Linked DNA regions of Homo sapiens: region 2 is linked to region 1. The links come from fine-mapping of genetic effects on gene expression. A gene starts in region 1. The other region holds a variant in brackets. All regions are shown on one strand. Distances are between the middles of the regions.

Region 1 (15,006 bases):
CTGTCCATCCCTCCTATCATCTGTAGAGCAGAGCACAGGCAGTTGTGTGCCTTGGGCCCAGGGAACCCTCCATCAACCTGAGACAGGACTCAGTATATGGTTCTTGGGTATGCCCTACCAGGTGGAATAAAGGACACAGATTTGATTTCTAGCATTCTTGTCTGCATCCTCATATAGAAATTCCCCTAGTTATGGTTCAGAATAACAAAATCCTGGGCCCTTGCCCTCCTGAAGACTGTAGCCGTGGCTGTAATTAAGCTCCTGGTGGGGGAAGCCCACACACATGGTTCTAAAGTTTGACCTGGTGGGTGTTCTAGACACTTCTCTTGCTACCCTAATTATAGTGTCTGACTTGTCACTGTGATTCACGTCCCAGATTTGCCTTGATAGTTTTACGCTTAGAAAAGCAGGGGGCCGTCTCCTAGGGGAATTCTTGGCCAGTGACCAGGAGGTGTCCTTTCCTTGCCAGGACCTTCATTTTATAGAGCAGTGAGTGAAAGATTTAGAACTCCAAGGGACACATGAGTCCAAGGTTTATCACCGAAGCCCCTTTTTATTTTTGACTTGAGACTATAAGGAGTTAGATAACTCTGCTGGTTTCTTAGTTCTCAATTTTGTTTCCTTAAATGTTTCAAGTCAGCAGTACTAGAGATACGCTCTAGCAGTTCTCAAAGGCAGATTCAGCTTCCCTCATAAACTCCCATGACACTCAGCAGGTATGATGGCCAGTTATCACTTCCCCTCTCACACGGTGCCCTGAGACACTCCGCTTTTTCAGTGGTTCGAATATAAAGTAGCAGATGTAGGAAAGTATCGACCCAAAGTGAGGTCATGAATACAACAGCATCTCGTGTTCGCTACGTTTCCTCTGGAATTAGCCCACAAGCAGACCCCTTGCTCTCCTAGTGGCAATTAACCATGACCATCTTCCTGGAGAAGAGAAACTACCTGGCAAAGGGCCAAAGTCTTAGGACTGCTGGGCAGGAGAACTGGCCTGTGTTCAAGGTGAGTTGGAGAAAGGTGGCAGTTGTGAGAATGGGTTGACAATGGCACAGGGAGGACAAGTTCGGTGATAACTGTTGTAGAAGTCCAAGGCTGCATCCAGCGAACCAAGGATGCCACAAGTGCTGTGTTGGCTTCTAATGTGTGACTATATTTACCTTGCTGGGTTCATTTAACTTCTGACACTAAAATCCTGGGGAGCAACATTTTTCATCAACTTAGATTAATTGTGGTCTCTACTTACAGGAACACTGACAGCTTAATTGACTTTATTCGATAGATACAGTTTTTTGACCCAATGTTGAAATTGTCGGAAATTTTTCCTGTGTGGTGGACTAGTCCAATACGCACCTGCTCTGCATTAAAGCAAAACCAGATGTCCAGACATTTCATTTTTGCAGAGCTGTCAACAAACAGGAGTCCAAGCGGGGCCAGTAAATTGAACCAGCATAGGACAGTGATGCTGACAGGTGGGGCAGTCACACTGTAACTATTGCTGTTATTGGAAGAACCAAAAGGAGCTGACACCTCAGAGAGTCACACATCTGGACAGTAACTCCACACAGCTGAAGTTCAACCGATAACACACCATAAAGCTGAAGGGCAGTTATGAGTATGTTTATTTCTTACTAACTTTATTACCAGTTCTTTTGTGGACTTGAAAATAATATGCATGACTCACTTTGAAACATCCTTTCGTTTTCCTAAGTCTCCAGCAGATTTCTGGATTTCTCTGGTTATTTGTATCCAATCCACACTTCAGTTCTAGAGCAGGGCAGCTTGATGGGTAGCCTGACTTACTACGATGGATGTCACTAGGCAGATAGTGTTGCTGAGCTCATGCCTGCTACATTGTCAGTCCATTCACAAAATGCCACCACCATAAAGAGGGCGGGTTGTTTCCCACAGAGCCAGGCACACCTGCCCTGCCCTGTTACAGAATGACCCAGTGTCAATTACACAGGCATTTGTTTTTTGTTTTAAAGAAACGGGGTCTTGCCCTGTTGCCCAGGCTGGAGTGAAGTGGTTCGTGATCATAGCTCACCGCAGCCTCAAAATCCTGGGCTCAATGATCCTCACACCACAGCCTCCCGAGTATTTGGGCCTACAGATGCGTGCCATGCCCGCCTCCTTTTTTAAAAATTTTTTGTAGAGATGGCTCCTCACTATGTTGCCTAGGCTGGTCCCATTGATTATAGGTTCATTGATTCATATAATCAGTAAACTCCAGGTCTCTAGTGATCCTCCACCTTGGCTTCCCAAAGTGTTGGGATATTACAGGCATGAGCCGCCGTGCCCGGCCCTATACAGACATTTCAGTGGTTCAATGACCTCTGAGCATTTTGTTGTCTTACCTCACCTAAAGGAGTTTAAATTTAAGTGGACACTTAGAGTGATCTGTTTTTACTACATACCCTTCACAGTTGTTGAGGGGAGAAAGGGCCTTGCTTTTCCCTATGTGTATTCCCTTTATACTGGGCAGTTTTGGTGCTCTACTTGAGGTATAAGAAGGATTTTGGAGGGAGTGTCCACTGTTCAGGGTATGAGTGAATATTTAGTAAATATTGACTATTCTGCCTATTAATACAAATGTTGACTTTGAATGTGTTGTTGGATGTGCCTTGATATAACTTCTTTTTGTGTTAGCACATCACTTACTAATTTTTGAATAGACTTTTTTTTGTTTGTTTGAGACAGAGTTTTGCTCTTGTTCCCCAGGCTGGAGTACAATGGCGTGATCTCGGCTCACTGCAACCTCCGCTTCCCAGGTTCAAGTGATTCTCCTGCCTCAGCCTCCCAAGTAGCTGGGACCACAGGTGCCCGCCACCACGCCAAGCTAATCTTTTGTATTTTTAGTGGAGAGGGGGTTTCACCATGTTGGCTAGGCTGGTCTCAAACTCCTGACCTCAGGTGATCCACCCGCCTTGCCCTCCCAAAGTGCTGGGATTACAGGCATGAGCCACCATGCCTGGCCTGAATAGACTATTTTTTAGAGCAGTTTTAGGTTCACATCAAAATTGAGTGAGAGTTTCCATATATTTCCTCCCCAACCCGCCCCCACCACAGCCTCCCCCACCATCAACATCCCATACTGCTGTGGTACATTTGTTGTAATCAATGAACCTACATTGACACATCGTCCATAATGTAAGTCCATAGCTTACATTAGGGTTCGCTATCTGCGTTGTACACTCTGTAGGTTTTGATAACTGTCCAATAGCATGTATACACCATTATATAGAAGAGTTTCACTGCCATGAAAATCTCCTGTGCTCTACCTATTCCTCCCTCCCTTCTTCCCCCAGAGCCGAAGGAACCACTGATCTTTTACTCTCTCCAGTTTTGTCTTTTCCAGAATGCCATATAGTCAAAATCATACTATGTGGCCTTTTCAGATTGGCTTCTTTCATTTGGTAATTTTTTTTTTTTTTTTTTTTTTTGAGACAGGGTCTTACGCTGTCACCCAGGCTGGAGTGCAGTGGTGCAATCTCGACTCACTGCAACCTCTGCCTCCTGGTTTCAAGCGATTCTCCTGCCTCAACCTCCCAAGTAGCTGAGAGTACAGGTGCGTGCCACCACCCCTGGCTAATTTTTGTATTTTTGCTAGAGACAGGGTGTCACCATGCTGGCCAGGCTGGTCTCAAACTCCTGTACTCAAGTGATCCACCTGTCTCGGCCTCCCAAAGTGCTGGGATTACAGGCATGAGCCACCACACCCGGCCATTTGGTAATTTGTCTTTAAGATTCTTCCATGTCTTTTCATGGCGAGATAGCTCATTTCTTCTTAGCACTGTATAATATCCCATTGTCTGGATGTACGACAGTGTATCCATTCATCTACTGAAGGACATCTTGGTTGCTTCCAAGTTTCCCAATTATGAGTAAAGCTGCTATAAACCTCTGAGTTTAGGTTTTTGTGTGGGCATAAGTTTTCAAACACGTTTAGTTAAATACCAAGGAGCACAATTGATCATATGATAAGAGTATGTTTAGTTTTGTAAAAAACATCAAGCTGTCTTCCAAAGTGGCTGTACCATTTTGCATTCTCATCAGTAGTGAATTAGAGTTCCTATTACTATGCATCTTCATTTGGTTTTGTCAGTATTTTGGATTTTCACCATTCTCATAGGTGGATGAAGATATTTAATTTGCAATTCCCTAGTGAAACTGAGCATCTTTTCATATGCTTATTTGCCATTTGTATATCTTCTTTGGTGAGGTGTCCAGATCTTTTCTCCATTTTCTAATTGGGTTGTTCATTTTCTTATTGCTGAGGGTTTTTTGTTTTGTTTTGTTTGTTTTGGTTTTAAGAAACAGGGTCTTGCTCTGTCACGCAGGCTGGAGTGCAATGGTGCAATTATAGCTCACTGCAACCTCAATCCTCCCACCTCAGCTTCCCCAGTAGCTAGGACTACAGGCACACACCACCACGCCAGGCTAATTCAAAAAAATTTTTTTGTAGACATTGCTGTGTCACCCAGGCTGGTTTCAAACTCTCAGCCTCAAGCGATTTTCCTGCCTCTGCCTCCCAAAGTGCTGGGATTATAGGTGTGAACCACTGTGTCTGCCCTTATTGTGGAGTTTTAAGAGTTCTTTGTATATTTTGGATAACAGTCCTTTATTAGATATGTCTTTTGGAAATATTTTCTCCCACTCTGTGGCTTTTACAGTTGTTTTAAATAGCTATCTTATACATTATCTACAATAAAACATATTTACACCTTTCATAGTTTATATATTTCCAAATACCCTAGACTTCATCCATAGATATACTCTTCAGATATATGAGTGGGTGCTATTATTAACAGCTCACCTCACTTGGAAGGCCAGGAGATATCCAGTCTGTCCCAGACAGCTCCATGGAAATTACTACACATTTGTTTTTTTTTTTTTTTGGAAACGGAGTCTCACTCTGTCACCCAGGCTGGAGTACAGTGGCGCGATCTTGGCTCACTGCAACTTCCGCCTCCCGGGTTCAAGCAATTCTCCTGCCTCAGCCTCCCGAGTACCTGGGACTACAGGCATGTGCCACCACGCCCGGCTAATTGTTTGTATTTTTGGTAGAGACAGGATTTCACTGTGTTAGCCAAGATGGTCTCGATCTCCTGACCTCGTGATCTGCCCGCCTTGGCCTCCCGAAGTACTGGGATTACAGGCATGAGCCACCACGCCCAGCCTACTACACATATTTTAAGTTACGATGCCTCCCACCAAAGAGAAAGATTTAGTTTCCAGGTAGTAAATATTTTTCTTATTTTCTTTTTAATTTTACTTTTTATTGTTTTGAGACGGAGTCTCACTCAGTTGCCCAGGCTGGAGTACAGTGGCGCCATCTCAGCTCACTGCAACCTCCACCTCCTGGGTTCAGGCAATTCTGCCTCAGTCTCCCGAGTAGCTGGGATTACAGATGTAAGCCACCACTTCCTATTAGTAGAGACCAGGGTTTCTCCCTGTTGGCCAGGCTGATCTCAAACTCCTGGCCTCAAGTGATCCTCCCGCCTAGGCCTCCCACAGTGCTGGAATTACAGATGTGAGTTACCGCACCCGGCCTTATTTTATTATTATTATTTTTGAGACAGGGTCTCACTCTGTTACCAAGGCTGCAGTGCAGTGGCTTGATCACAGCTCATTGCAGCCTCAACCTCCCTGCACTCAGGTGATCCTCCCACCTCAACCTCCTGAGTAGCTGGAACTACAGGCATACGCCACTATGCCCAGCTAATTTTTGTATTTTTTTTAAGAAATGGGGTTTCACAATGTTGCCCAGGGTGGTCTTGAACTCTTGAGCTTAAGCCATCTTCCCACCTCAGCCACCCAAAGTGCTGGGATTACAGGCATGTACCACCACGCCCAGAAGTTACATTTTTAATTTTCTTTCAGACTGTTCATTATTGGTGTAAAGAAGCTCAATTTGTTTTTTTGCATGTTGATCTTGTTCTCTGCAACTTTGCTGAATTTTCTCTAATAGTTTTTTTTTCTTCTAATAGTTTTTTGGTAGATTCTTTGGTATTTTCTATATATAAGACAATATAGTCTGCAAATAGGGATAGTTTTATTTCTTCTTTTCTAGGTTGGATGCTTTTTATTTCTTTTTCTTGTTTAGTTGTTCTGGCCAGAAATTCTAGTACAATGTTGAGTAGCAACAGTGAAAGTAGGCATCTTTGTCTTGTTCCTGACCTTAGTGGTTGTTCCTGACCTTCACCGTTGAGTTTTATGTTAGCTGTGGGTTTTTCATAAATGTTCTTTATCATGCTGAGGAAGTTCGTTTCTATTTCTAGTTTTCTGAGTTTCTACTTTTCATGAAAGGGTGATGAATTCTGTCACCCTTTCCTGTATCAATTGAGATAATGTAGTTTTTTTCCTTCATTTTATTAATGTGGTATATTACATTGATTTATTTTTCTTTTTTTCTTTTTTTGAGATGGAGTCTTCCTCTGTCTCCCAAGCTGGAGTGCAGTGGCCGGCTCACTGCAGCCCCTGCCTCCTGGGTTCAAGTGATTCTCCTGCCTCAGCCTCCCGAGTAGCTGGGATTACAGGCGTGCACCACCATGCCCAGCTAATTTTTGTATTTTTAGTAGAGATGAGGTTTCACTGTGTTGGCCAGGCTGGTCTCAAACTCCTGGCCTCAGGTGATCCGCCCACCTGGGCCTCCCAAAGTGCTGGGATTACAGGCGTAAGCCACCAGGCCCGGCCTACATTTATTTATTTTTCTTATGTTGAACACCCTTACATTCCTTCAATAAGTCTAACTTGGTCATGGTTTTCTCCTTTTAATATGCTATTGGATTCAGTTTGCTCGTATTTTGTTGAGGATTTTTGCATCAATATTCATAAGGGATGTTGATCTGTAGTCTTCTTGTGGTCTTTTGGTCTGGCTGTGCCATCAGAATGATGCTGGCCTCATATAATCAATTAAAAAGTGTTCCCTTCTTTTCTATTCTTTCGAACAGTTTGAAAGGATTGGTGTTACCTTCATTTAGTGATCTGAGAGAAAAAAAAGGACTGGTGTTAATTCTTTAAATGTTTGGTAGCATTCACATGGAAGTCTTCTGATCCTGGACTTCTTTCTGTTGAGAGGTTTTTGTTTGTTTGTTCGTTTGTTGAGACGGAGTCTCGCTCTGTCGCCCACGGTGGAGTGCAGTGGCACGATCTCGGCTCACTGCAACCTCCGCCTCCTGGGTTCAAGGGATTCTCCTGCCTCAGCCTCCCAAGTAGCTAGGATTACAGGCATGCGCCACCACGTCCGGCTAATTTTTTATTTTTAGTAGAGAAGGGGTTTCCATGTTGTCCAGGCTGGTGTCGAACTCCTGAACTCAGGTGATTCACCCGCCTCGGCTTCCCGAAATGCTGGGATTACAGGCGTGAGCCACCGCGTGTGGCCTTTTCTTTGAGACAGAGTCTCTCTCTGTCTCCCAGGCTGTTGTGCAGTGGCGCACTCTAGGCTCACTGCAATCCGCCTCCCAAGTTCAAGCGATTCTCCTGCCTCAGGCTCCCGAGTTGCTGGGGATTACCGGAGTGGTAGGAGCTCACTACCACTCCCGGCTGCTTTTTTTTTTTTTTTTTTTTTTGAGACGGAGTTTCGCTCTTGTTGCCTAGGCTGGAGTGGCGCGATCTCGGTTTACTGCAACCTCCGCCTCTCGAGTTCAAGCGATTCTCCCACCTCAGCCTCCGGAGTAGCTGGGATTACAGGCGCGCGCCACCATCCTCTGCTAATTATTTTTGTATGTTAGTAGAGACAGGTTTCACCATGTTGGCCAGGCTGGTCTGCAACTCTTGAACTCCGGGGATCCGCCCACCTCGGCCTTCCAAAGTGCTGGGATTACAGGTGTGAGCCACCACGCCTGGCCATGAATGTGATTTTTTGATATTGAATAATAAAAGCTATGCAGATCTTCTATATTCTTCTATCTAAATGTTGACACAACTTTATATCTAGAAACTTCGGATTTAAAGCTCAGCCCGAGAGAACCCATCAAATGTTGGAGCTGCAAGGGGCTAGAAAGCATCACCAGACCTGGATTCGCGGGCGATGTTGGCTCAAGGTAGCACAGGACGTTGGCCCAGAGCTGGAAATTGAGGCCAGGTCTTCCGGCACACCCACCCCACAGGACGACCAAGCAGGGCTTCACAGAGGAGTTGGGGGTTAGGTTTATTTCTGTTGTTAAAAACCCGGTGAACAAAAGGTTGTGGAAAAAACACATGCAAAAGACAGGCGAAGGTGTGAGCTGGATAGGGACAAAGATGGGGGAACCCGTGGGGTCACTCCTTGACCCCACCCGGGACACCTAGACATCCACAGTGTCGGGGGAGGGGCCCCAGACCAGGCAGAAGACCCTTCCCCGGCCCTGGGGAACCCAAGATTTCCGAGAGTAAGCGGACCTGTGCAAAGACCCACAAGGGAGGCCAGTGGCCTGTGCTGGGCACTGTACAGCCGCCCCGACCCCGACCTCACGTGGGCCTCGGAGGCTGCAGGGACCTACCCGGCCGCGCGCCGCCCACCATCCCAGGTCTACCGCAGGGGAATCCCCCAGGCTTGCGAGCGCTTCCGAGGGCAGGAAAGCCTGTACTGCAGCCCCGCCGCCCTCTCCTGGCGCGTAGCCCTCTCCCCGAGCCCTCGGGCCACGCCGCCAGGCCCGCGATCCCAGGGCGGCCCGGGGGGTTCGGCACAGCCCGATAATGCGCCGCGCCGAAGCCTGCAGCACCCCGCGGTCGCCGTCTCTCTTGCACTGGTCAGGACGAATAGAGCCTGACAAAACCTGAGTTAATTGGCCGAGCGAATGTCGTTCGCGTCAGGAGAGCACGTCCGGAGAAGCCAAGGGAAATGTGGAGCAGGAGCAGCCAAAGTGGCCCATCGGCTCTCGAGCAGGGTTTGCGCGTCGCGGTCGCAAAGCCCCTGTGAGTGCAGGTACCGCGGCACAAGCGCTGCCCCGGAGCTCCAGGAGGCGGCGGCGGGCTCGGCGTTCGCGGTCCAGGAGAAACCACCGCGGGGTGTTGGGAACATTTTGTTAAAAAGCCGGGAAGCTCAGGGCCGGTGTGGCCTCCGTTCTGGCCTGAGAACCCGGACTTTGGGCAGCTTCTTTTCCTTGCCTTTGGGTCTCCGGCTTTCTCAGCTCTGTGAGGTCCCATGGGTCTCCTGCCCTGGCAGGTTCCTTCAGCTGGAGAAAGCGGGGGTCATGGCTGGATGAGGTTGCGGTAAGCATTAGAGGGCTATCAGCAGCATCTTATCGCAGCGGAGCCTTCGATAGCTCAGTTGGTAGAGCGGAGGACTGTAGTGGATAGGGCGTGGCAATCCTTAGGTCGCTGGTTCGATTCCGGCTCGAAGGACTTCGTCTGTAATTTTTAACCTCAATTTAATTCAATTATCCCATAAGGGGAAAGGCTTGGAGGCCTCCTGTGACTTAGCATTCGTACTGCCGTCAGTCCATAGGGAACACCGTAGTATGTAGTATACGGTAACGCTCTTTCTGCGTTCAATGTACATGTGGTAACGTGTTTTAGAATGTTTTCTGCTTAAGCACACGATTATATGCTTGATTTTTAGAATCTTGCACATGGATGCCACTGTATTGTACTCTGCTAAATAAATGTCCTGAACTGTGGTTGATCCACTGGTCAGTGAACAGTGCAGTGAACCTGTAAGGCAAAGGGAAAGAACTAAGCAGCAGGCGGGGGATTAGCTCAAATGGTAGAGCGCTCGCTTAGCATGCGAGAGGTAGCGGGATCGATGCCCGCATCCTCCACTCAGCTTTTGCGTCCGTCACACTACAGAACACAAAACGGGAGGGATTCCCGGCGCAGTGGGCTACGTGTTTCATTTTAGAGACACAAGACTGTTAAGCGATAAGGAGTTTCACACGATGTCTTTTTATTTCGCAGTTGAGTCCCAGTTTCTGCCGCTTTATCTTTCCCGCCTCCCGGCAGGCAGGCCGTTAACCGTCTTCCGGAAGACGCTGCTAGAACCCTCCGGCCGCTCCTGCCCGCCATCGTCCCCGAACGACACTCGCTCAGGTACCCACTAACGTGCGAGGAACCCTGAGAGCTGACCAATGGTAGCGAGCTTTACTGGGCGGGTCGCCAGCTGCAGCCACGGCCAATAGGCGAGAGACTTCTTGTTTCCTGGCAGAGCGGGGTCCCGGCACCGCGGCGCTCGGGTGTTTTTGGGGGCCCGGGTGGAGGGCCCGGGTGCCGGGGCCCAAGGTGCGGCCTCGCTAGCGGGAGAGGGAGCGGGATCACCGGCCCGGAGAGAGGTGAGGGGCTCTGCGCGGACTACGGGCCCCGCCAGCCCCGGCCCCGCCAGCCCCGGCCCCGCCCCCTTCTCTCAGCCCCTTGAGCCCGAGCCCCTCGAAGGCCACCCCGCACCCCGCTCCCGACCTGGCTTACGCGGTCCCGACCCCGCCCAGCTCCGTGGCCTCACCTCTGACTCCTAGGCCCTCCCTGCCTAATCCCCTGCCGCGGGAGCCCGTCTCGACCCCTTCCATGCCTCCCAGTCCCACCCTGCCCAGGGCAAGCCCGCTCGGTGTGACGGTTCCCCGCGAGTCGAGGGTGGAGAAGCCAGCCTCCTTCCCCCGAGTGGGACTCTAGCAGCCCACCTCTTTTAGGGGTGCTGAGAACACCCATTACTCATCCACAGCTACTAGGGTAGCTTTCTCAGGGTGCAGTGCTTACGGGGCGGAGGGGGATGGAAACAGACCCATGCCCTGGCTGGAAGGGAGCTCCAGTCGCTAGGTGAGCCCAGTAGCCTTTGGCTTGGCAGAGGCACCACTGTTATAGTTTTTCTCCATACTAGGCATAAGGTAGGAACAAAAAAGGAAGAACCAGCCCTTCCAGGGCTCAGGGGAGCAACACCAGAATGTCCGCTCAGTACTTGTGAGGACAGAGGCTGGAGAGAGGACTACCCATTTACACTCAGAACCTCGATTCCTCTCTCTGCTCTGTGCTGGAGAGTGCAGAGCCAGAGATCCAGAACGGCCCATCTCTAAAGGTGGCCATGTATGGTGGTGAGTGTATCTTGGCTAGGTTTGGAAAATCTGACCTCTCTGATTATATTCTCTAATCTTTGGGCTGCAAAGCAGCTGAGAGTTTAGTGTTTTTCAACATAGTTAAGCCACTGAGTTTTATTTGGGAACAGCCAAGCTAAAGTAAAATGGGGTCCCTTTAGGTCATTTACAACCCTTAGTGTTGGGGTACAGAATGCTGCTTTCTCTTGGCCTTTGCTGGAAGACCACTTCTATGTTTTCTAAGAGGGAGACAGCCTTTTGTTTCATAGGGCACTCCCTAAGAATAGCTCTTATTTATCAAGAGATACCCAGAAAACTCTTCGATTTGTCTTCCCTTTCCTCCTTAACCTAACCCTTGTTTTCCCCCAGCTCTCAGGGCCAGAGCGGGGCAGGAGGATGCTTTCCCAGCCCCACCATGGAGCTGCGCTGTGGGGGATTGCTGTTCAGTTCTCGCTTTGATTCAGGGAATCTAGCCCACGTGGAGAAGGTGGAATCTTTGTCCAGTGATGGGGAAGGGGTAGGAGGTGGGGCGTCAGCCCTGACCAGTGGCATTGCCTCTTCCCCTGACTATGAATTCAACGTGTGGACCCGACCAGACTGTGCTGAAACGGAATTTGAGAATGGGAACAGGTATATGGAACGAAATGGAGGGTGGAAAAAGGCTCCAAACCCATGCTTCAGTTAGCCCTCTGACTTATCTGTTCATACCCAGCATACTCCCTGTCCATTTCTGACCCATCGTCCCTCCTTTCTCCTTGCCAAATAGCCCTTTCCCAGTTTGGCTGGCTCCGGCTCTCCCACAGACCATATCTCCAACCCTTCCACACGTAATGACCTCTCTCTTACTCTGGTCCTCAGGTCATGGTTCTACTTCAGCGTCCGGGGAGGAATGCCAGGAAAACTCATCAAGATCAACATTATGAACATGAACAAGCAGAGCAAGCTGTATTCCCAGGGCATGGCCCCCTTTGTGCGCACACTGCCCACCCGGCCACGCTGGGAACGCATTCGAGACCGGCCCACCTTTGAGGTAAGTTCTCCATGAGGAGGAAAGAAAGACTTGGGTGCTAAAAGTAGAGAGGAAAGTAAAGCGTTTTTTTTTCCTTGATACAAGTATGAAGCAGGTGGGACAACAGGTTTAAGTATCAGCTTTTTCTCCAGTGTTAGCTAGAGTCCAAGATGAGCCCCTGCCTCAGGAAGCCTAGAAGGAGCCACTTTTCATATAGAAAGTGTCACAGGGAGGGAAGTTGGTAAAGGTGATAAGGGTGTGAGGTCAGTTCCTGGTGGTCCCAGTAGGAGCTCAGTTCTGACAATGGCATGTTGCCCCTCCCTCTTCCTCCTCTGCTCTTCAGATGACAGAGACGCAGTTTGTGTTATCCTTTGTTCATCGTTTCGTGGAGGGCCGTGGGGCCACCACCTTCTTCGCCTTCTGCTACCCCTTCTCCTACAGTGACTGCCAGGAACTGCTAAACCAGCTAGACCAGCGCTTTCCGGAGAACCACCCTACCCATAGCAGGTGCCAGCCCCATTCTTACTCCTGCCACACAGTCCTGGATCAGACAGCACCTCCACTACTTCTGGAATTTGCTCTTAGAGCTCTGAACCATACTTTCATCCGTCTTTTTTCTGTACAGAATGTACAGACAGGACTTTGGGTACCTTTGAAAACTATGTTTCTGTATGACCCTGATCTCAGCATATCGACACCTGCCCTCCACTCTTTCACCTGCCCAGTTCAGACCTCTTACTAGCCCAGCTCCCATTAATTATCCAGAGTTTAGCCAGCATTATGTGACTCAGTATACCTTTTTTATCTGCCCCCACGGAGAACAACTCCGACTACATTAAGTAATCTATTCTAGGAAGCCACAAACTGGGGAACAACAAGTTCACCCTGTCCTGTACTCTTCATTCTGGCAATGTAAACCCACTCAAATCCTTAGCCTCATTTAACATTGTGAGGGACTATAAGGCCCCAAAGGTTAGGGTGAAGGACCAGATTTTACAGATCCTGGGCTGGTGACAAGGCCTACCTCTTACTAGGACTTTAGGGACTTCTCCTGGCTTAATTTTTTTTTCCCTGTAGCCCCCTGGATACCATCTATTACCATCGGGAGCTCCTTTGCTATTCTCTGGATGGACTTCGTGTAGATCTGCTGACGATCACTTCCTGCCATGGGCTTCGAGAAGATCGAGAGCCCCGTCTAGAGCAGCTATTTCCTGATACCAGCACCCCTCGACCATTCCGTTTCGCAGGCAAGAGGGTGAGTGGAAATAGCATAAAGGTAGTTCTTTGGCTTTTCTCTAGCACCAGGTACTGTTTATAGCTAAAGACTATGTTATCTCTAGGCATCTTGGACATGGCCTCCGCCCGCAGCGTGCGGCAAGGGTGATGGCCCCTGCTCCACTTGCAGATTCAGCCAGCTGGAAATCCAGCGGCTATTCCTGCCTCATCCATGACACCCCCCATATACTGTCAAAGTAGAACTACAGGGTAACTGACTTAATGTCTGCTCTCCTCTCTACCTCAGATATTCTTCTTAAGCAGTAGAGTACACCCAGGGGAGACTCCATCTAGCTTTGTCTTCAATGGCTTTCTGGACTTCATCCTCCGACCTGATGATCCCCGGGCCCAAACCCTCCGTCGCCTCTTCGTCTTTAAGCTGATTCCCATGTTGAACCCCGATGGTGTGGTCCGGGGACACTACCGGTAAGTGGCTTCCCCAGCCTGTCTGGACTGTTCCCATTTCCCCTCATGCCCTGCATCTCAGTGAAATTCTGTCAGCCTTCTGGCTTCTGTGTTCCCAGTCCTCTTGCACCCTAATAAAGGCAAGCCCATCTCATCTTCCTGAGAAAGCATGAGATCATATCTAGTGGCACTCCCAGAAAGGAACCAAACTAGGATGACTGCAGGCCCATCTGGGTGGAGGCAGCTACCCTGAGGAAGCTCCTTAGGGTTCTATGGTAAGGGTGACAGCAGATCAAAGAGAGGCCCTGTCTTCAATTCTTTCTTTCCTAACATAGCTTCAGCCTCTCATTTGATAAGTCAGTCTCCTACGGTCTCCTTTTCATCTACACTAGTGTCTCCTTCACTGGCCCAGTCCTCTAGAACCTGCTTCAGTCCTTGTTTTCCTACAGCACAGACTCACGTGGAGTGAATCTGAACCGTCAGTACCTGAAGCCTGATGCCGTCCTGCACCCGGCCATCTATGGGGCCAAAGCTGTGCTTCTCTACCACCATGTGCACTCTCGTCTGAACTCCCAGAGTTCCTCTGAGCACCAGCCCAGTTCCTGTCTCCCTCCTGATGCTCCTGTTTCTGACCTGGAGAAAGCCAACAATCTCCAAAATGAAGCTCAGTGTGGGCACTCAGCTGACAGGCATAACGCTGAAGCCTGGAAACAAACAGAGCCAGCAGAACAGAAGCTCAACAGTGTGTGGATTATGCCACAACAGTCTGCGGGGCTTGAAGAGTCAGCCCCTGATACCATCCCCCCCAAAGAGAGTGGCGTTGCTTACTATGTGGACCTGCATGGACATGCTTCCAAAAGGGGCTGCTTCATGTACGGAAACAGCTTTAGTGATGAGAGCACCCAGGTGGGAATCCTAAGAATGTCATGTGAGTGTGAGAAGTGTTACAGGTTAGGAGATGGGGTTAGGCCATGAACAGAAGGAAGATAGCCTTAGGTAGCTTTCTGGAAGGAAGGCCTGTGTAGACTACCTCTGAAAAAGCTTTGAAGGGCCAAGAAGAGATGGCACAGGGGGATAATGTCTCAATTGTTACATCATGACCTTTTATTAAGGAAAGCTAACTGCATTATAGTCTGCTAGAGTCTGGGAATCCAGAGAAGGAAAATTTTGCATTGTTGGAGGGAGGAAGCTAAAAGCTTAAAAAAAAAAGAATTGCTTCCCAACACCTAGAAGTAATGTCAAACTGAGAATTCAGGCAGCACTGATTACTGTTAATGGTTGTGATGGTATCTGCTGTGTATTAAGTCACATGGTCAC
Region 2 (15,006 bases), 930 kb before region 1:
CGCACCATTGTACTCCAGCCTGGGCAACAAGAGCGAAACTCCATCTCAAAAAAAAAAAAAAATACAAATCTTAAAACAAAAAAGCTTTATTTTGATTTCCTTATTCTTTATTTTATTGTTCAGGTAAGTAGTCTGTAGTAAGAGCAGTTTAGAGATTCTGCAGTGTGTTTCCAACAACCACCAATTCTCTGATTCTACCACATGAACTGGTGTCCTGCTATTCAATGCTATTCTGACACTGACTACCCTGAATTAGTATCAGACTCCACAAGTTTAAGGACTCATTCCTACAAAATTGCCCTCACTTGAGATGCCATTTGCAAGTCCTGGGTCCCCAGGCTTACCCACATTTCTGCCTTCTGTCCAAGCTGGCTATAGATTTTGGGGATGCCAACAATGCCACTCCATGTGATCATTTGCTAGGGTGAGTCATAGAACTTAGGAAAATGCTATACTTGGGATTACAGTTTCATTATAAAGTATACAATTCAGGAACAGCCAAATGGAAGAGAGGCATATGTGGGGAGTAGCGGCAGGGCTCCAGAGCTTCCATCCCCTCTCTGGATACGCCACCTCTCCCAGCACCTTGATGTGTTCACCGAATTGGAATATTCCTTACCCTCAGTTTTTCAGATTTTTGAATTGAAGTTCCATCACTTAGGCATAATTGATTAAATCATTGACTTCTGGTGATTGAGTGTAATGTCTGTCTCCCTTCCCCTCCTAGGAGGTCAGGAAGTGGGACTGAAATTTCCAATCCTCTTATCACTTGGTTGGTTCCTCTGGAGACCAGCCCCCATTCTGAAGCTAGATAGGAGCCTTGTCATCAGTCACCTCATTAGCATAAACTCATTATAGTCAAAAGAATCTTGTTATGAATAACAAAAGACAACCCTGTCACTCAGGAAATTGGGAGGTCAGTGACAGGAACTGGGAACAAAGACCTAATATATGTTTTTATTATACCGCAGACTTAAACATCTGACATGGTAGACTGGATGGTTTGTTTCCCAAGATAAACTGAGAAACATACAACCCAGGTATCAAAAAGGAAAATTGTGGGTGTGGTGGTGTACACCTGTGGTCCCAGTTACTTGGGAGGCTGAGGCAGAAAGATTGCTTGAGCCCAAGAATTCAAGGCTGCAGTGAGCTATTATCATACCACTGTGCTTCAGCCTGGGTGACAGAGTGAGACTCTGTCTCTGAAAAAGAAAAGAAGTTATTTAAAAAGAAAATCTTGGCCAGGCGCAGTGGCTCATGCCTGTAATCCCAGCACTTTGGGAGGCTGAGGCAGGCGGATCACCTGAGGTCAGGAGTTTGAAACCAGTCTGGTCGACATGGTGAAACCCTGTCTCTATGAAAAACACAAAAAATTAGCCGGGCATGATGGTGGGCACCTGTAGTCTCAGCTACTCAGGAGGCCAAGGCAGGAGAATCACTTGAACCCAGGAGGCGGAGGAGGTTGCAGTGAGCCAAGATTGCACCACTGCACTCCATCCTGGGCAGCAGAGTGCAACTCCGTCTCAAAAAGAAAGAAAGAGGAAATCTTGTTTCTCTGGTGTATTAAAGGATTATATAACATGATCAAGAGGAACTTACCCAGGAATGCAAGGGTCAGAACCTGTCAATGTAATACACCATATTAATAGACGACAAAACCATACAGTTATCTCAGTTCACACAGAAAAAACATTTGACAAAATCCAACATTCTTTTATGATTAAAACAGTCAGCCAAACGCAGTGGCTCACACCCGTAAATCCCAGCACTTTGGGAGGCCGAGGCAAGTGGATCACCTGAGGTCAGGAGTTCGAGACCAGCCTGGCCAACATGGTGAAACCTCGTCTCTACTAAAAATACAAAAATCAGCCAGGTGTGATGGCAAACACCTGTAACCCCAGCTACTCGGGAGGCTGAGGCAGGAGAATCGCTTGAGCCCAGGAGGTGGAGGTTGCAGTAAGCCAAGATCGTGCCATTGTGCTCCAGCCTGGGCGACAGAGCAAGACTCTGTCTCAAAAAAAAGTCAACAAACTAGGAATAGCAAAGAACTTCCTTAATCCTGTAAGTGACATCTATAAAAATACCACAGCTATTATTGTACCTGTCCCCTAAGATCAAGAGCATGGCAAGAATATCTACTCTGGCCACTTCTGTTCAACATTATGCTGAGTTCCAGCCAGAGCTAAAAAAAAAAAAAAAAAGAAAGAAAGAAAAAAAGCCATCCAGAGTGAAACAACTATTTATAAATGGTAGAATATTTTATATAGAAAATCCTTAAGAACCCACAAACATATACCCAGAAAACTCTTAGAACTAATAAACAAGTTCAGCAAGGTTACAAGAAATGAGATCAACATATAAAAATCAGCTTTATTTCTGTACACTAGCAATAACCTAAAAATTACATTGAGAATAAATTTCCATTTGTAATAATATCAAAAGGCAAAAAATACTTAGGAGTAAATTTAACCAAAAGAGTGTAAGACTTGAACACAGAAAACCACAAAATATTGTTGAAAGAAATTAAAGATCTAAATAATTAGATAGCCATTATTTGTGAATTGGAAGACAATATTAAGATGGCATTACTACCCAAAGTGATCTACAGATTTAGTGCAATCCCTATCAAAATCCCAATTGCTTTTTTAAAAATTCCCCCCCGTAGAAATTGACAAATTGACCCTAAAACTAATATAGAAAGGCAAGGGACCCAGAGTAGCCAAAATAATCTTGAAAAGGAAGTACACAGTTGTAAGATTTATACTTTCTGGTTTTAAAACTTAACCGCAAAGCCACAATAATCAAAACACTGTGATACTGACATAAGGATAGTCATAAAGATTGATTGAATAGTATTGAGAGTCTAAAAATAAACTCTTACATATATGGTCAGTTGACTTTTAACAAGATGGCTAGACAATTCAATGGGCAAAAGAATAGTCTTTCCAACAAATGGTGCTGGGAAAACTGGCTATCCTTGTGTGGAAGAATGAAAGTTAGACACCTACTTCATACCATACAGAAAAGTTAACTCAAAATGGACCACAAAGGTTGGGTATGGTGACCCACACCTGTAATCCCAACATTTTGGGAGGCCAAGGTGGGTGGGTCGCTGGAGCCCAGGAGTTTGAGACCAGCCTGGGCAACATGGTGAAACCCCATCTCTACAAAAATATACAAAAAAAAAAAAAAAAAATTAGTCGGGTATGGTGGTATGCACTTGTAGTTCCAGCTATCTGGGAGGCTGAGGTGGGATCACTTGAGCCCAGGAGGTCGAGGCTGCAGTGAACCATGATTGCATTACTACACTCCAGCCTGGGCAACAGAGTGAGACTCTGTCTCAAAAAAAGAAAAAAAACCAAAAAGGATCATGGACCTACATGTAAGATCTAAAGCCATGAAGTGGCAAAAGAAAAGAAATGGATAAATTGGGCTACATCAAATTTAAAACCTTTGTGCTTTGAAGGTTCTACCATTTAGAAAGTAAAAAGCCAACCCACAGAATGGAAGAAAAGAGGACAGACTCTAACAAGCGTTCACAAAGATGGAGAGAAATTGTAACCCTCATATATTGCTGGTAGAATTGTAGAAAGATGCAGCTGGTTTGGAAGATATTTTGGCAGTTCTCAAAATGGTTAAACATACAGTTACCTTATGACCAGCAGTTCTACTCTTAGGTATTTACCCAAGAGAATTAACAATATATATCCACAAAAGGTGTACACAAGTATTTATAGCAGCATTGTTCACAATAGCCAAAAAAAAAAACCAGAAACAACCCAAACATCCATCAACTGATGAATGGATAAATAAAATGTGTATATTCATATAAGGGAACATCACTCAGCCATTAAAAGGCATGAAGGACTGATACTTGGTACAGTGTGGGTGAACCTTGAAAACCTTATGAAAGAAGCCAGACATAAAAGGCCTTACATGATTCCCTTTAAATAAAATGCCCCAAATTGACAAAAACATAGAGACAGAAAGTAGATTCATGATTGCCAGGTGCTGGGGGTGATGTTTGGAGAGAAAAGAGTGGTTGCTATGAGTACAGGTTTATAGGGGAGTGATAAAAATATTATAAAGTTAGTAGTGGTGATAGTTGAACTGCCTCGTAAATAACTAAAAAAACACTGAATTGTATATTTTTACAGGGTGAATTTTATGATATGTAAATTATAAACTCAAAACTGTTATTTTTTTAAAAACTGAATTGAGCTTTAATACCTTTCCTTACAATTACAGTTGACCCTTGAACAATGTGGGTTTGAACTACACAGGTAGAGTTGTTATTACTGTTTTTTTTTTTTTTTTTGAGACGGAGTTTTGCTCTGTCGCCCAGGCTGGAGTGCAGTGGCGCCATCTTGGCTCACTGCAGTCTCCGCCTCCCTGGTTTAAGTGATTCTTCTGCCTCAGCCTCCTGAGTAGCTGGGACTACAGGTGCATGCTGCCACGCCCGGCTAATTTTTTTTGTATTTTTTAGTAGAGATGGGATTTCACCATCTTGGTCAGGCTGGTCTGGTCTTGAACTCCTGACTTCGTGATCTACCTGTCTTGGCCTCCCAAAGTGCTGGGATTACAGGCATGAGCCACTGCGCCCCACCAGTTGTTAATATTTTTTAATTAAAAAATATTTTTGAGATGGGTGTCTCACCATGTTGCCCGGGCTGGTGTTAAAACCCTGAGCTCCAATAATTCTCCCATCTCAGCCTTCCTGGTAGCTAGGACTACAGGCATGTGCCACCATGCCTGACTCACAGGTCCACTTAATATACATTTTTTTCAACTAAAGGCAGATTGAAAATATGAATTTTGATACTCACATATAATATAGGTTGGTGTGGAGCCTTCTTTGTATATGTCTGTTTCACAGGGCTGGCTGCAGGACTTGAGTATGCATGGATTTTGATAAAGGAAGTAGGGTCCTGGAACCAATCAGCCATTCCCCATGGAGACTGTATTTCTTTTCTTTCTTTCTGTCTTGTGTTTTTTTTTTTTTTTTTTTTTTTTTTGAGACGCAGTCTTGCTCTGTCGCCCAGGCTGGAGTGCAGTGGCGCTGTCTCAGCTCACTGCAAGCTCTGCTTCCTGGGTTCACACCATCCTCCTGCCTCAGCCTCCCGAGTAGCTGGGACTACAGGCACCCGCCACCGCACCCAGCTAATTTTTTGTATTTTCAGTAGAGATGGGGTTTCAACGTGTTAGCCAGGATGGTCTCGATCTCCTGACCTCATGATCTGCCCACCTCGGCCTCCCAAAGTGCTGGGATTACAGGCGTGAGCCACCACGCCCGGCCTTTTTTTTTTTCTTTTTCTTTTTTTAAGAGAGAGGGTCTTGCTGTGTTGCCCAGGAGGCTGGTCTCAAATTCCTGAGTTAGCTGGACTTCAGGCATGTGCCACTGTGCCACTCTTTGTATTTCTTTAGCAAAAGGAGACAAATACAAGTTTTCTGTTCCTTGGAATAGAGATAAGAAGAATTTATATACTCTTAAATCTGTGTTTTCTGAAGCGTGTTCTACTTTTTAGTAGTATTACTTGGCATATGACATTCTGTGGACAAATACGTTAAATAGGTATTTTTATTCAATTTTTATATGCTTTAGTGTGTTGCGAATGTCCAAGAGGGGGAGTTATTATATGAAGGTTTTGAAACTTGTTGAGGTGAAACTTTACATCAAGGGACAACTCTTGGGATCAGTGTTTTTGAACTAGGCTGGGGATGCAGCGTAAACAACATAAATGATCCCCTACTTAGTGTTAAGAGTTGGGAAGGTCCGGGTGCGGGGGGCTCATGCTTGTAATCCCAGCACTTTGGGAGGCCGAGGCTGGCGGATCACCAGGTCAGAAGATTGAGACCATCCTGGCTAACACGGTGAAACCCCGTCTCTACTAAAATAAGAAAAAAAATTAGCCGGGCATGGTGGCGGGTGCCTGTAGTCCCAGCTACTCAGGAGGCTGAGGCAGGAGAATGGCGTGAACCCAGGAGGCGGAGCTTGCAGTGAGCCAAGGTCGTGCCACTGCACTCCGCTCCAGACTGGGCGACAGAGCGAGACTCCGTCTCAAAAAAAAAAAAAAAACAAAAAAAACAAAAGAGTTAGGAAGTACAAAGTTGTTAACATGTAAATAAAACAAGTACCTAACTAACATAGCCTGGGAGGTGAGAGGAGCGACTTTAAACTGAGACCTGAGGAGATGAGAAGTTACCCAGATAAAGATGGGACTGATAAAAAAGTGCAGTGGATTCCAATTTAAGAGAGATCATATATGTTAATTTACTTTGGGTAACTGGGGAACATAACTACCTTGGCTATAGAGATATTTAGAGAAACGTACTTTGGACCAAATAACTTAGCTTAGGAAGGACAAATCCTTAGGAAACCCAAGTCTCAGATTATTTCTCTAATAGATATAAAAAGATGTTCTTTTTTTTTGAGACGGAGTCTTGCTCTGTTGCCCAGGCTGGAGTGCAGTGGCGCAAATCTCAGCTCACTGCAAACTCCACCTCCCGGATTCAAGTGGTTCTCCTGCCTCAGCCTCCTGAGTAGCTGGGATTACAGGCGTGTGCCACCACGCCTGGCTAATTTTTGTAATTTTAGTAGAGACGGGGTTTCACCATGTTGGTCAGGCCAGTCTCGAACTCCTGACCTCATGGTCCGTCGTCCTCAGCCACCCAAAGTGCTGGGATTACAGGCGTGAGCTACCACGCCGGCCAAAAAGATGTTCTTTTAGCTCCAATTTTTACAAAGTAACGTCCCCTCCTCCCCCTTTTTTTTGAGACCGGGTTTCACTGTTTCCCAGGCTGGAGTGCAGTGGTGTGAACACAGCCCACTGTAGCCCAGACCTCCCGGGCAAATAAGTGCTTTAAAAAAAAACAAAGGCCGGGGGTGGGGTGGGGGTGGGGAATTAACAGGTTCTCATGTACCTAGTCAAATATCAGAACAACTATGAGGCTTATATTTGTGAAATATATATTGGTTTCTGAATGGTTTCATTATTATTAAACTTCAACATCCTTTTAAAGTATTTGTTGTTTCTATTTAATGATAGACAGTGATCTCTAAATCTGTGATTCTCAGTCAAGGACAGTTTTACATTTGTCAATATGTGGAGATATTTTTGGTTATCACAGCTTGGGTACAAGAAGAATGCTAACCCAGAATGCTGACCCAAAATGTCTGTATGGCCGAAGTTGAGAAACCTTGGTCTAAATGCACCTCTCTGTATTAGTACCTTGGGAAAATTAACCATATTTTAAGCTAGTTACAGTCTGCATGTGTGATTCATAGAGATATGTGTCCTCCTGCATAAACATGTCTCTTTATGGATATGTCTGTGTGGTGCAACTACCAATCTTTCTTTGGGTGTTTTTGCCGTAAGTGGTTGTAAACACAATGCGTATCCGACTGAAAAAAGATTAATGTGCATGTTGGCATAAGAAAATGTATGAGAGAAGTTCTGTGTATTCTGAGTGCTGTTTTATTGGTCCCCTGGCTCAGCAGTGAAGTCTTTAACCTCATCATGCTTGCTGCTTATTGTTAGTAAGATCATCCAAGTAAGGATGTATAGGGCTGTGCACGGTGGCTCACACCTGTAATCCCAGCACTTTGGGAATCCAAGGTGGGAGGATTGCTTGAGTTTAGGAGTTCGAGACCAGCTTGAGCAACATAGCAAGACCTCATCTCTACTAAAAAAGTTTATTTTTTAAAGTCGGATATGGCGG[T/C]GAGTACCTGTAGTCCCAGCTATTTGGTAGGCTGAGGTGGGAGGATCACCTGAGCCCAGGAGATCAAGGCTGTAGTGAGCTGATTATAGCAGTGCATTCCAGCCTGGGTGACACAGCGAGACCCTGTCTCAAAAAAAAAATAAATTTTAAAAAGAGTTGTATAATACTATTTTGACCTTTGTCTTAGTTTTTGTGTTTTGTTATTCAAAGAAGTGTATCCCAAGTCTTTTCAGGTCTTAGCTTTGCTTTTTTTTTTTTCTTTTTAAAGACAGGGTCTCACTCTGTCAGGTTAGAGTGCAGTGGCACAATCACAGCTTACTGCAGCCTCTACCTCCTGAGCTCAAGCTATCCTCCCAGCCTAGCCTCCCAGGTACCTAGGACCACAAGCGTGCTATATCATGTCTGGCTAATTTTTATTTTTGTGGTGATGGGGTCTTACTGTGTTGCCCTGGCTGGCCTCAAATTCTTGGGCTCAAGCAATCTTCCTGCATTGGCTTCCCAGAATGTTGGGATTATACACATGAGCCACTGTGCCCAGCAGGCTTACTTTCAAATATATTTTTGAGCTAGAATTATATTTATGCTCTGAAATGGTACACATGTATAAAGAATTATACCTATTTCCTCACTAGCCCCAGAATACTGATGTGAGTTGGCGTGGAGGTGTAGTAGGTTGTAAATTGGTGGTCTGATTGCTAAAGCTTTTTTAAAAAACAGGCTGAAAATATCTTAACACTTATAAATTTATATATAAGGTAATTTTCCCTTTTTTATACTTCATTGATCATTTATTTATTGGCTTCGGCTTCGTTCCATCAGCCTGCTTGCACCTAACTTACAGGTGTTCTTAGTAGAACAGTGACTTCTAAAGCTACAGATAATTTATCTTCTCTTTGAGTGGAGGTTCATGTTAGTGGCTCTGGTAACTTGCAGTGTTTAGGATGTGGGTAGATTATTACAGGTCACTGTGATAATTTGTCCATTTAGCAGCTGGGAGCTTTTAAAACCATGCTTCTGTACTTCTTTGGGATCATGGACCCCTTTGAGAAATTAGAATCTTACCAGAATGATGTACTTATACAACTTGCAAAGTTTTATGTGTGCTCCTTGGAATTATTGATGTCCCCGAAGTCCATCCTTAGATTCTGAGATCAAAATGCCTCTTACTTTTAGCACATGGCAGGATTTTAGGAGCACCTGGTATATTGCTGCTTATTACTGGATATTTGCCAAGTTGCCTTTGTTTTAGCAGTAACATAAATTAAGAGGCACTAAATTCAGATAAGACCATGGAATCCCTAAATAGGGAGTTTCTTTTTTTTTTTTCTTGAGACGGAGTCTCGCTCTGTTGCCCAGGCTGGAGTGCAGTGGTGCTATCTTGGCTCACTGCAAGCTCTACCTCCCGGGTTCACACCATTCTCCTGCCTCAGCCTCCTGAGTAGCTGGGACTACAGGGCGTCCATCAACACACCCAGCTAATTTTTTGTATTTTTAGTAGACACGAGGTTTCACTGTGTTAGCCAGGATGGTCTCAATCTCCTGACCTCGTGATCCGCCCGCCTCGGCCTCCCAAAATGCTGGGATTATAGGCATGAGCCACCGCATCCAGCCAGCGAGTTTCTTTATAGTATATTATAATTTTTTTTTTCCCGAGACAAAGTCTTGCTCTGTCACCCAGGCTGGAGTGCAGTGGTATCATCTCAGCTCACTGCAACCTCCACCTCCTGGGTTCAAGTGATTGTCCTGCCTCAGCCTCCCAAGTAGCTGAGATTACAGACGTGCATCGCCACACCCGGCTAATTTTAGTAATTTTAGTAGAGACAGGGTTTTGCCATATTGGCCAGGCTGGTCTCGAACCCCTGACCTCATGTGATCCACCCACCTCAGCCTCCCAAAGTGCTGGCTTTACAGGCGTGAGCCACCACATGCGGTATAATTTTTCTTTGTTAAGCTTGTGATTCTACTAAGGGTATCGTCCTTGCAACAAAAGAGTTGTTTCCTCCCTAATCCCACCTTTGTCTACCCCCTTTTAAACTGTCATTGACCCTTGAACTGCAGGTTCACTTACACATGGATATTTTTGTTTAAAGAGATGGGGACTCGCAGTGTTGCCCAGGCTGGTCTCAAACTCCAGGGGTCAAGTGATTCTTCCTTCTCAGCCTCCCAAGAAGCTGGGATTACAGGTGTGTGCCACCACACCCAGCTCTATAAACAGGTTTTTAAAAACAAATCTTTTGGAAAAAATGTTAGAGACTTGCAACAACTTGAAAAACTCACAGACAAGCCACATAACCTAGAAATATTGGGCGGGGGGGAAATTAAGAAAAAGTTAAGTATATTATGAATGTCTAAAGTATATGTAGATACTAGTCTATTTTATTACTACCATAAAACATACACAGATCTATTATTAAAAGTTTAAATTTATTAACACTCAAACACACAGAGCCCATACAAGGCACCTTTTGCATCAAGAGAAATGTAACAGAGATGCAGTATTAAATCATAATTGCATAAAAATAACTAATACATACTGTACTACTGTGATAATTTTGTAGCCACCTCCTGTTGCTATTTTGGTGAGCTCGTATGTTTCCAAGTGTCTGCTTAAAACACCATGTGATGTGGATCATCTCCCCGTGAACAGTTTGTGTCTCCAGTAAATCCCATATTGCAATCAAAAGAGGTCTTTTGTGGTTCTTGCGTGTTTTCATCGTGTCTAGTGCAATACCATAAACCTTGAATAACACCATCAGACCTATACAAAGTGCCACTAGTGATGCCAGAAGCAATCCTGAGAAACAGAAAAGTCATGACATTACAAGAAAAAATTGAATTGCTTAATATGTACTGTAGAATGAGGTCTGCAGCTGTGGTTGCCCGTTATTTCAAGATAAATTAATCCAGCATAAGGACCATTTTAAATAAAAGAAAATTTGTGAAGCCATCACTGCAGCCACAGCAGGAGGTGTGAAACCTTGCACTTTTTACAGAATACCTTTTTATCTCATGTTGAAAATGCAGCTCTTATGTGGGTACAGGATTGCTATAAGAAAGGCATACTTGTAGGCTGGGCGCGGTGGCTCACGCCTGTAATCCCAGCACTTTGGGAGGCCAAGGCGGGCAGATCACGAGGTCAGGAGATCGAGACCATCCTGGCTAACACGTTGAAACCCCGTCTCTACTGAAAATACAAAAAATTAGCCAGGCGTGGTGGCGGGCGCCTGTAGTCCCAGCCACTCGGGAGGCTGAGGCAGGAGAATGGTGTGAACCCGGGAGGCAGAGCTTGCAGTGAGCTGAGATCACACCACTGCACTCCAGCCTGGGCGACAGAGCGACTCTGTCTCAAAAAAAAAAACAAAAAAAAAGGGCATACTTGTAGACTATGATATTCAAGAAAAAGTGAAGTTATTATATGACAACTTAAAGCAAAACGGAAGAGAAGCTAGAGGAGTTAATGCCAGCAAAGAATGGTTTGATAATTTTAGAAAGAGGCTTGGCCTAAAAATGGCAGGCTAACAGGAGAAGCAGCTTCTGCTGACTAAGACACAGCAGACAAGTTCCTGGGCACCGCTGAACAAGTCTTTAATGCAGTTAAAAGTGTCCTATTCTCGGGGTGGCAGGGAGGGGGGCAGGCCACAAAGGACATGAGTGTTAGGAAAAGAAGAAAGCACAGGGAATTAAGGCAGGAAGGGATAGGCTAACTACTGTTCTGTGCAAATGCAATTGGGTTTATGATCAGGACTGACTGCCCTTACGTATAAAGTTGCTAACCCCCAAGACCTGAAGGGAAAAGTCTTTTGAAGCTGCCAGTTTTTTGATCATTCAACAAGAAGACCTGAACACTGAGAATCCTTTTTCTGGATTGGTTCCATCAATACTTTGTCCCTGAAATCAGGAAATACCTTGCCATTATGGGACAGCCCTTTAAAGTTCTTTTGATGTTGGACAGTGCCCCTGGCCACCCAGAACCCCATGAGTTTAACACCGAAAACATTGAAGTGGTCTACTTGCCCCCGAACACAGTCTCTAATTCAGCATCTAGATCAGGGGATCATGAGGACCTTTAAGGTTAATAACACACGGTACTCTAACCTCAATAGAACATCATGAAAATCTGGAGGAATTACACCGCTGAAGATGCCATCGTTATAGAAAAAGCCATGAAAGCCATCAAGCACAAAACAGTAACTTCCTGCTGGAGAAAACTGTGTACCGATGTTGAGCATGATTTCACAGGATTTGTAGCAGAGCCAGTCAAGGAATTTATGAAAGAGACTGTGGATAAGACAAGAGCTAATAGACATCAACCAGAGGAATCAACAGAAGATGATTTAATGAAGATGCCGGTGCTTCCAAACCAGCGTTGGACGATAAGGAAGAAGGCAAAGAAGTAGTGCCAGAAAACAAATTGACTGTAGACAATCTGGCAGAAGGGTTCTGATTATTCAAGACTGCTTTAGACTTACTGTACAACATGGACCATTGTGTGATACAGGCACTGAAACTGAAGCAAATGATGAAAGAAGGATTGGTTTTGTATAGAAATATTTTTAAAGAAATGAAAAAGCAAAAAAGAAATTACAATGTTTTTCCGTAAAGTTAAACTGAGTGTGCCTGCCTCCCCTTCCACCTTCTCTACCTCTTCTGCCTCTGCCTTCCCTGAGACAGCAAGACCAACCCCCTCCTCTTTCTCCTCCTCAGCCTACTCAATTTGAAGACATTGAGGATGAAGACCTTTATGATGATCCACTTCCACTTAATGAATAGTAAATATATTTTTCTTCCTTATGATTTTCTTAATAACATTTTCTTTTCTCTAACTTTATGGTAAGAATACAGTATAGAATACATATATAAAATATGTTAATCGACTGTTACTGATAATACTTCTGGTTAGCATCAGGCTGTTACTAATTAAGTGTTTGGGGAGTAAAAGTTATACATGGTATACCCTTACCCCCATTGTTCAAGGGTCAACTGTATGTTGTTTTAAATCAGCATATTTTATAACTTTCCTAGTTTTTTTTTTTCTTATAGCTACAGGAAATGAAGTAACCGCAGCCATTTGGCAGTTTTGTTGCTGTTGTTTTTCTTATTGTTGTTGTTGCTTTTTTTTTTTTTTTTTTTTTTTTTTTTGAGACAGGTTCTTGCTTTGTTGCCCTGGCTGGAGTGCAGTGGCAGTGATAATAGTTCACTCCAGCCTTGAGCTCTTGGGCTCAAGTGCTCCTCCTGCCTCAGCTTCTTAAAGTGTTGGGATTACAGGCATGAGCCCCCGTGCTCAGCCTATTGTTGTTTTTGAATACTTTTTAAAATTGTGGTGAAATACATACAACATGAAATTTTCATTTTAACTATTATTTTGGTGTATAGTTCAGTGGTGTTAAGTACATTCTACTGTTGTGCAACCGTCACCACCATCCATTTCCAGAACTTTTTCATCTTTCTGAACTCAAGCTTTGCATCCATTAAACAATGATTTCTGTCTCCCCCTTTCCCCATCTCCTGGCAACTGTCACCATTCTATTTTCTATGAATTTGACTGTTATAGGTACCTCATATAAGTGGAATCATATAGTATTTGTTCAATTTGTAAGTAATTTACTTCATTTAACATAAAGTTTTCAAGGTTCATCTACATTGTAGCATGTGTCAGAACTTGTTTATTTTTTGAGGCTGAATAATATTCCATTGTTTTTATATGCCATGTTCTGTTTATTCATTCACCCATTGTTGGATATGTGGGTTGTTTTCACCCTTTTACTATTGTGAATAATGTTGCTGTGAACACTGGTGTACAAATATCTGAGTCCCTGCTTTAAATTCTTCTGCGTGTATACCCATGAGTGGAATTGCTGGATCATATGATAATTCTGTGTGTAACCTTTTGAGGAATCACCAGACTTTTCCACAGTGATTGCACCATTTTACATTCCTACCAACAGTACACAAAGGTGTCGGTTTCTCCACATCCTCGCCAATATGTGTTTTCTGTTTTTTTAATAGTAGCCATACTAATGGGTATGTAGTGGTATCTCTCATTGTGGTTTTTGATTTGCATTTCCTAATCTTAGTGATATTGAGCATCTATTCATGTGCATATTGTTTGTTTGTATATCTTCTTTGAAGAAATGTCTATTCAAATCCTTTGCTTGCTTTTTTTTTTTTTTTTTTTTAAATTTTTTCCAGACAGGTTCTTGCTCTGTTCCCCAGGCTGGAGTACAGAGGCATGATGATCATGGCTCACTGCAGCCTCAACTTCCCAGGCTCAAGTGATTCTCCTACCACAGCCTCCTAAGTAGCTGGGACTACAGGCACACACCACCGTGCCTGGCTAATTTTTAAATTTTTTGTAGAGATGAGGTCTCACAGTGTTACTCAGGCTAGTCTCGAACTCCTGGGCTCAGGCAATTTTCCTGACAGCCTCCCAAAGTGCTGTCATTTTTTGTTGTTGTTAGGAGTTTTAGGTGTTTTTTATATATTCTAGGTATTATTCCCTTTCAAATACATGATTTACAAATATTTCCTCCTTTTTGTGGGTAGTCTTTTCATTCTCTTGATAGCGTCCTTTGTTGCACAGTAGTTTTTAACTTTGATGAAGTACAGTTTAACTACTTTTTCTTTTATTGCCTGTGCTTTTGGTATCATGTCAAAGAAACCATTGCCAAATCCAGTGTCCTGAAGCTTTTCCCTATGTTTTCTTCTAAGAGTTTTATAGTTTGAGGTCTTTGATCTAGTTCAAGTTAATTTTTTTATATGGTTTAAAATAAGGATCCAGCTTCATTGTTTTGCATGTGGATATCTGGTTTTCCTAGTGCTATTTATTGAAAAGACTGTCCTTTCCCTATTGACTGATTTTGGCATCCTTGTCGAGGGTCATTTGACTAAGTATGTGAGGATTTATTTCTGGGCTCTCTATTCCATTCCATTAGTCTGTGTATCTGTCTTTATGCCAGTTCCACACTTTTTGATTTGCAGTAAGTTCTGAAATTTGACTCCCCCAGCTAATATTATTTTGGCTGGGCTCAGTGGCTCATGCCTGTAATCCTAGCTCTTTGGGAGGCCGATGGGGGTGGATCACTTGAGGCCAGGAGTTCGCGATCAGCCTGGCCAACATGGCAAAACCCCCCATCTCTACCAGAAAACTACAAAAATTAGCTGGCATGGTAGTACACACACCTGTAGTCCCAGCTACTCACAGCTACTCAAGAGGCTAAGGCAGGAGAATCGCTTGAACTCGGGAGGCGAAAGTTGCAGGAAGCCCAGATCACACCACTGCACTCCAGC

Direction of the effects. Positions count from the first base shown, and alleles are read on the strand shown. Sizes are in standard deviations (SD) of each study's normalised expression.
For the expression in testis of the gene that starts at base 10,125 in region 1, C is the high allele of the variant in region 2 and T is the other (small effect, 0.32 SD a copy in GTEx).

What was found.
Region 2: its variant is fine-mapped to the expression of AGBL5 in testis (GTEx, PIP above 0.99).

What each region holds. Positions count from the first base shown.
Region 1 is chr2:27,041,544-27,056,549 of GRCh38, forward strand. AGBL5 (AGBL carboxypeptidase 5) reads left to right here and starts at 10,125. Exons shown (of 15, transcript NM_021831.6): 1 at 10,125-10,250; 2 at 11,370-11,630; 3 at 11,859-12,030; 4 at 12,353-12,516; 5 at 13,087-13,264; 6 at 13,532-13,710; 7 at 14,139-14,595. The coding sequence starts at 11,416. It overlaps AGBL5-AS1 (AGBL5 antisense RNA 1), which reads right to left and starts at 8,721. Exons shown (of 2, transcript NR_046730.1): 1 at 8,637-8,721; 2 at 8,140-8,461. It overlaps TRY-GTA2-1 (tRNA-Tyr (anticodon GTA) 2-1), which reads left to right and starts at 9,239; the gene lies at 9,239-9,327. It overlaps TRA-AGC8-1 (tRNA-Ala (anticodon AGC) 8-1), which reads left to right and starts at 9,671; the gene lies at 9,671-9,743. It also overlaps TMEM214. RefSeq lists enhancers at 140-189, 8,876-9,165, 9,336-9,565, 9,880-10,379 and silencers at 8,506-8,715, 9,418-9,712, 10,116-10,555, 10,576-10,625.
Region 2 is chr2:26,111,560-26,126,565 of GRCh38, forward strand. All of the region lies in intron 3 of RAB10 (RAB10, member RAS oncogene family), which reads left to right. Among named protein-coding and RNA genes, the nearest start is that of GAREM2, 54 kb to the right of the region's middle. The variant T/C (reference allele first, on the strand shown) is at 7,720.